Linked DNA regions of Homo sapiens. The protein of the gene in region 1 purifies or fractionates together with the protein of each later gene. This does not show direct contact. Each region holds a gene or a part of one and is shown on either strand. Other genes may lie near its edges.

Region 1 (3,751 bases):
CAGGAGTTCAAGACCAGCCTGGCCAACATGGTGAAACCCCATCTCTACTAAAAATATAAAAATTAGCTAGGCGTGGTGGCACATGCCTGTAGTTCCAGCTACTTGGGAGGCTGAGGCTGCAATGAGCCAAGATCATGCCACTGTACTCCAGCCTGGACAACAGAGCAAGACTCCATCTCAAAAAAAAGGAAAGAAGAATTCGCATCTGTCCAATATGTTAGTTTTGGGAGCATTTTCAAATGTGTAATATTTTATCGAAATAACAACAAAAAAAGTCTGCAGGTAGTTTGATGACCTATCATTATAATTCCCATTTACAGCTGAGGAAACTGGGATACATGAAGTGATTTAAGCTTATTCTACCAACAAGAAGAACACAATCCAAGGTCTCTTTGCCCCAAGTGTCCCTCTGCTTCAGGAACCCTACCACTCTGCATGCACGCACACACACACACACACCCTTGTGCTCACACACATACACCCTATGTTCATACATATGCACCACTGTGCTCACACACACCCCTATGTTCATACATACACACACCACTGTGCTCACGCACACACACCCCCACTGTGTTCATACATACACACCACTATGTTCACACACACCCACACACCCCACTGTGTTCATACATATACACCCAGACTCCAGCCTGGGTGACAGAGCGAGACTCTGACTCAAAAAAAAAAAAAAAAAAAAAAATTAATGAAATGAAAGCAAAGGCCAGAGAAGCAAAGGGCATCATCTTTGGTCACTTTACCTCCCCTGGTTTTATCATGTGAAATTCAGCCAGGTGGGGAAAGCTTACAGTGATGAAGAAAGTTAAGAAAAAAAAAAAACACCAAGCACTAAAAAGGGAAAAGGAATGTGTGGAATTAGATAGATGGTAGTTGCACAAAACAGAGAATACATTAAAAATCACTGCACTGCACGCTTTAAAATGGGGCATTTGATGTGATGTGACTTACATTTCAATTTTCTAAAAGAGAAAAAGAATGTGGTAGAAAAAGCAATAGGTCTGGGTGCACAGAATGAAGGACAGCCAAGAAAGAAATGTCAATTACTCTCAGTTCTCAAGTGTTAAATAAAGTTCCTATGAATACAGACGAGGGTAGCACATTAAGGAAAAATGGGATGGAGGGAAGAAAACAGAGGTTTTTTCCTTGCAAAGGTTTATAAGGGATGTTTTACCGAGAGATGGGCAACAGGAAACCCTGGCAGTGCTGGCCAGATCAGCAGGGTCAGGTCCCATCCCCATATACAGGCGCAGAAGCCCCAAACAATACCAGCAAAGAGGGTCCTGAGGTGAAGGGACCAGCCTACAGGAACAGTCCACGTCATATTCAGGGAAATAAATAGTATCTTGGTGGCCCAGCATAGTGGCTTACGTCTGTAATCCCAGCACTTTGGGAGGCCAAGGAGAGCAGATCATTTGAGCCCAGAAGTTAAAGACTAGCCAGGGCAATGCCATGAAACCCTGTCTCTACAAAAAACAAGCCGGTCATGGTGGTGCGCACATGTAGTCCCAGCTACTTCAGGGGCTGAGGTGGGACGATCACTTGAACACGAGGCTGCACTGAGCCACGACTGTGACACTGCACTCCAACCTAGGCAACAGAGCAAGATCCTGTCTCAAAAATTAAATAAATACATAAATATTTTTTTAAAAAGAAAACATTAACAACCAGACAAAACAAATGCATCTATTTGGCCTTTGGGTGACTTATTTATAGATATGCTTTCAGAATTAAGGAAAGCGGATGTTGCTTAGGCAACAACAAAAAATAAAAGATAAAAATAAACCCTGCGAAAATTTCTTTTTTTTTTTTGAAACAGAGTCTCACTCTGTTGCCCAGGCTGGAATGCAGTGTCGCAATCTCGACTCACTGCAACCTCTGCCTCCCGGGATCAAGCGATTCTTCTGCCTCAGCCTCCCAAGTAGCTGGGACTACAGGTGCACACCACCACGCCTGGCGAATTTTTGTAATTTTAGTAGAGACGGGGTTTCACCATACTGGCCAGGGTAGTCTCAAACTCCTGACTTCATGATCCACCCGCCTCGGCCTCCGAAAGTGCTGGGATTATAGGTGTGAGCCACCGCGCCCAGCCGAAAATTTCTTTAATAAAACTTGCCAGAGCATGGTTAAGAAAAATTAAAAGTATTGATTTATTAAAAGGCACTACCAAAAAATAAAGTTAAGCCATAGATTAGGAAAAAATATTTGCGACACATATATATCTGGCAAACGGCTTGTATAAAAAATACGTCAGCCTGGGCAATAGAGCAAGAGCAAGACTCCATCTGAAAAAAAAAAAACATGTAAGGAACTGCTGGGCGTGGTGGCTCACGCCTGTTAATACCAGCACTTTGGGAGGCCAAGACGGGCGGATCACGAGGTCAGGAGATCGAGACCATCCTGGCTAACATGGTGAAACCCATATCTAATAAAAATACAACAAAAAAAAAAATTAGCTGGGCGTGGTGGCAGGCGCCTGTAGTCCCAGCTACTCCAGAGGCTGAGGCAGGGGAATGGCGTGAACCCGGGAGGCAGAGCTTGCAGTGAGCCGAGATCGCGCCACTGCACTCAAGCCTGGGCAACAGAGGAGACTCCATCTCAAAAATAAATAAATAAATAAATATGTAAGGAACTTAAAAATACAAACAATCCAATTTTTTAAATGGGCAAAAGTCTTGAACAGACACTTTACAAATCCAGGCATACAAAGACCGACAAGCATGTAAGCGCTCACCATTATGAGTCATCAGTGAAATGCACATTAAAACTAACAAGATGCCACTATACCCCGCTAGAATGGCTCAGATGAAAAAGACAGGCAAGGCCAGGCACGGTGGCTCACGCCTGTAATCCCAACACTTTGGGAGGCCGATGGGGGGTGATCACCTGAGGTCAGGAGTTCAAGACCAGCCTGACCAACATGGAGAAACCCATCTCTACTAAAAATACAAAATTAGCCCGGCATGGTGGCCCATGACTGTAATCCCAGATACTCAGGAAATTAAAGCAGGAGAATTGTTTGAACTCGGGAGGCAGAGGTTGCAGTGAGCTGAGATCGTGCCACTGCACTCCAGCCTGGGCAACAAGAGTGAAACTCCATCTCAAAAAAAATAAAAAATAAAGTATTGAAAGTAGTCAAAATCATAGAAACAAAGTAGAAAAGATGGTTACCGGGGGAGGGCGAGGGAGGAGGAGATATCAGTATTTGGGGGCTACAGTCTCAGCGCTGCCAGATGAAAGAGTTCCAGAAATGTGGAACAACGATGTGCATATCCTTAACACTACTGAATTGTGAACTTTTAAATGGTTAAAATGGTACATCTTTGAAAAAAATTGAAGTGGCGCGAGGTTTCCCCAAGAAAAAGTAATGATAGGATTAAACAGCATTATCATGATTCACTTGAAGCTGCAGCTTTAAGTACTGCAAGGTGATTCAAAGCTTATACCGCGAAGCAAAAAAACTGAGTTAGAATCTTGACTTCACAGCTGTGTAACTTTGGTTTCTGAAACTTCCCCTCTCTCACCCTCAAATTCCTCAACAGTAGAATCTCAGTAACAGTACCTATTTTACTTTTTTTTTTTCTTTTTGAGATGGGAGTCTCACTCTGTCGCCCAGGCTGGAGTGCCGTGGCTCGATCTGGCTCACTGCAACCTCCGCCTCCCGGGTTCAAGTGATTCTCCTACCTCAGCTTCCCAAATACCCGGGACTACAGAAGCATACTACCACACGCGG
Region 2 (3,751 bases), on another chromosome or scaffold:
CATTATGCTTTTATTCCTGAGTCCAAAGTTTGGTCAGGGAGAAAGAACCTGATGAGCCCAGCCCTTCTTTTCCTCAAACTAGGCTACAAGGCTTAAGTGGCTGGTCTGTGTGTGGCTTAAATCATTGTGGGTAGTGCTACAGTTGGGATTCTGTGTTATAAAAATGGTTTCTTGAGCTCTAAGGATAGATTTCCCCCAAAAGGGACCTGGGAAGTGTCTGTCAGATCGCCCCTTTTGTCTCTTTTCATGCATGACTCATATGGGGCAGGTAGCTCACTAATGTGCTTTGGTTGCTGCAGATACAAAGGGAAATACTTTGAAGGACACGGGAGAGCTCTCGAGATCATCCAGTGCTTTCCCTGTATAACAGTTCCTCTTCCTTGTTGTCGTGTTCCAGGGTCAGAGATTGGTGTTTTGCCTTCTGGAGCTACTGTCCAGGCATCTGGAGGAAAAGCAGCTTTCAGAGGGCAAAAGCTCCTCCTCTTACCACACTTGGAACACGGGCACCGAAGGGCCTTTCGTGGAGAGGGTGACTGCAGTGTGGAAGAGCATCTTCAGCCTTGACACCCCTGAGCAGTATCAGGAAGCCTTTCAGAAGCTGCAGAACATCAAGTACCCATCTGCTACAAATAACACACCTGCCAAACAGGTAAGCCATCTGTACCAGCATTTGACATTAATCACTCAGTGGTAAGACTTCCTTAATCCATGTCTATTGTAACGGGGAAACAAGCAGAATACTGGACTGTGTTTCAGAAAAGGCTAAGGCATGGCCACGCCACCTGGAAAGATCCCTTTAGACTAATCAAAGCCCTTTAACTTTAAAGTTAGTATTAGATCAGTATTCCCTTTTTTGTTTTGTTTTTTTTAGTTGTTTGAAGCTGGAGTGCAGTGGCATGATCTTGGCTCACTGCAGCCGCCACCTCCCAGATTCAAGTGATTCTCCCGCCTCAGACTCCTAAGAGCTGTGATTACAGGCGTGCGCCACCACGCCCAGCCACTATTTCCTTTTCTAAAAAAGTAAAATAAAAAGTCTAGAAAATATAGAAAAGCAGAATAATGTAATAACCCATCAACCAGAATTAACAGATGTTCACATTTTGTCATTTTTACTTTGTAGGGTTTTCTGGTTTCATTTTGTATTTTGATTTGAGGACTTTATAAAATAAAAACAGTAGGGCAAAGTTGAAGTCCTTCTTGTTCCTTTCCTCAGCCCTTCACTCCTTCCCTAGCTCGCCACAGGCACCTCCTGTGTCAGTGCCACATGTATTGTTTTGCTGTTTGCTTATTTCAGAGGCCATTGTTTGTAAAATCTATCCATGTTGATAAAAAGAGATCAGTTGATTTATTTTAACTGCTATGTCTGCCTTGTGAATATACCTACTTCTTTTTTTTTTTTTTTTTCCTTTCTGGAGACTGGGTCTCACTGTTACCCAGGCTGGTCTCGAATTCCTCAAGTGATCCTCCCGCCTCAGCCTCCCAAAGTACTGGGATTACAGGCATGAGCCACTGTGCCTGGCGTAGTTCTTTCCCTCATTTCAAAATGAGGGAACATTATGATATTTATGAGGAACAAGGCTTCTCAAATGGTATATACTTTGAAAAACAATTGGACAGTTTCTTTTTTTCTTTTCTTTTTTCCTTTTCTTTTCTTTCTTTTTGAGGCGGAATTTCACTCTTGTTGCTCAGGCTGGAGTACAGTGGCATGATATCTGCTCACTGCAACCTCCGCCTCCCAGGTTCAAGCAATTCTCCTGCCTCAGCCTTCCAAGTAGCTGGGATTACAGGCATGTGCCACCACGCCCAGCTAATATTTTTACTTTTTTTTTTTTTTTAGATGGAGTCTCACTCTGTCACCCGGGCTGGAGTACAGTGGCATGATCTTGGCTCACTGCAATCTCCGCCTCCCAGGTTCAAGCAATTCTCTTGCCTCAGCCTCCCGGGTAGCTGGGATTACAGGCACCTGCCACCATGCCCGGCTAATTTTTTGTATTTTTAGTAGAGACAGGGGTTTCACCATGTTGGCCAGGCTGGTCTCGAACTCCTGACCTCGTGATTTGCCCACTTCGGCCTCCCAAAGTGCTGGGATTATAGGCATGAGCCACTGCAGCCAGCCTATTTTTCAGATTTTTAGTAGAGACAGGGTTTCACCATGTTGGCCAGGCTGGTCTTGAACTTCTGACCTCATGTGATCCACCTGCCTCGGCCTCCCAAAGTGCTGTGATTACAAGTGTGAGCCATCACGCCTGGCCAGGCAGTTTCTTATAAAGTTAAACATGCACATGCCCCATGTCTCAGCAGTTCTGCTACCTAGATATTCCACTAAAACAATGAAATCAGATGGCCACACAAAGACTTGTACACAAATGTTTACAGCAGCTTAGTGCACAGTAGCCAAAAACTAGAAACAACCCAAATGTCCATCAACTGATGAATGGATATGCAAACTGTGTTGTGTCTATGCAGTGAAATACTATACTGTTTAACAATAAAAAGGGCCAGTCTTGGTGGCTCACACCTGTAATCCCAGCACTTTGGGAGGCCAACGCGGGTGGATCGCTTGAGCTCAGGAGTTTGAGACCAGCCTGGGCAACATGGCAAAAACCTGTCTCTAGTAAAAATACAAAAATTAGCCGGGTGTGGTAGCACAAGCCTGTAATCCCAGGTACTAGGGTGGCTAAGGCAGGAGAATCATTCAAATCTGGGAGACGGAGGCTGCAGTGAGCCAAGATGGAACCACTGCACTACAGCCTGGGTAAGAGAATGAGACCCTGTCTCAAAAAAAGAAAGTAAAAAGGAACAAATTACTGCCACACAAATAATATCGGTGTTAGCCGCGCGTGGTGGCGGGCTCCTGTAGTCCCAGCCACTCTGGAGGCTGAGGCAAGAGAATGGTGTGAACCCAGGAGGCCAAGCTTACAGTGAGCCGAGATCGTGCCACTGCACTCCAGCCTGGGCGACAGAGCAAGACTCCATCTCAAAAAAACAAAGAAGAAGAAGAAGAATATCGGTGAATCTCAAAAGCTTTAAAGACACAAAAGACTATATACTCTGTGGTTCCATTTATATGAATTCTAGAAAAGAAAAAATTAAAGTGACAACCAGTTCAGTGGTTGCCAGTGGGGTGGGGCCAGGAGATCGCCTGCAGAGGAGCCGGAGGGCATATCTTCAGTTGATGAAAATGTTCTGTCTTGATTTTGCTGGTAGTGTTGTAACTATATATGTTTCTCAAACTACATACTTAAAATTGAGCACATTTTTCTTAGTTGTACTCCAAGCTTTGTTTTGTTTTGTTTTTGGTGGGTTTTGATTTTTTTTTTTTGAGACAGCGTCTCACTCTGTCACCCAGGCTCGGGTGTAGTGGCTTACTGCAACCTCCGCCTCTCGGGTTCAAGCAATTCTTCCGCCTCAGCCTCCCAAGTAGCTGGGATTACAGGCGTGCACCACCAAGCCCGGCTAATTTTTTTTTTTTTTTTTTTTTTTTTAGAGACGGGCTTTCACCTCGGGTGATCCGCCCGCCTCAGCCTCCCAAAGTGATGGGGTTATAGGTGTGAGCAACTGCACCCAGCCTTTATTTTGTTTTTAATTACAGCTTTTAGTTCCAGAAACTCACTTTTTGTTTTTGTTGTTTGTTTGTTTGTTTTGAGAGGGAGTCTCACTCTCATGCTCAGACTGGAGTGCAGTGGCGCAATCTCAGCTCACCACAACCTCCACCTTCCGGGTTCAAGCAATTCTTCTGTCTCAGCCTCCC

Evidence for each region. The genes of interacting proteins can lie anywhere in the genome.
Region 2: the proteins of KLC1 (region 1) and GEMIN5 fractionate together in Homo sapiens (co-fractionation; one large-scale study listed by BioGRID). This does not show direct contact.

What each region holds. Positions count from the first base shown.
Region 1 is NC_000014.9:103,635,609-103,639,359, reverse strand, and holds part of KLC1 (kinesin light chain 1), read right to left. Parts: intron 1-3,751. UniProt on the Homo sapiens protein: Kinesin is a microtubule-associated force-producing protein that may play a role in organelle transport. The light chain may function in coupling of cargo to the heavy chain or in the modulation of its ATPase activity.
Region 2 is NC_000005.10:154,892,990-154,896,740, reverse strand, and holds part of GEMIN5 (gem-associated protein 5), read left to right. Parts: intron 1-397; coding exon 398-649; intron 650-3,751. UniProt on the Homo sapiens protein: The SMN complex catalyzes the assembly of small nuclear ribonucleoproteins (snRNPs), the building blocks of the spliceosome, and thereby plays an important role in the splicing of cellular pre-mRNAs.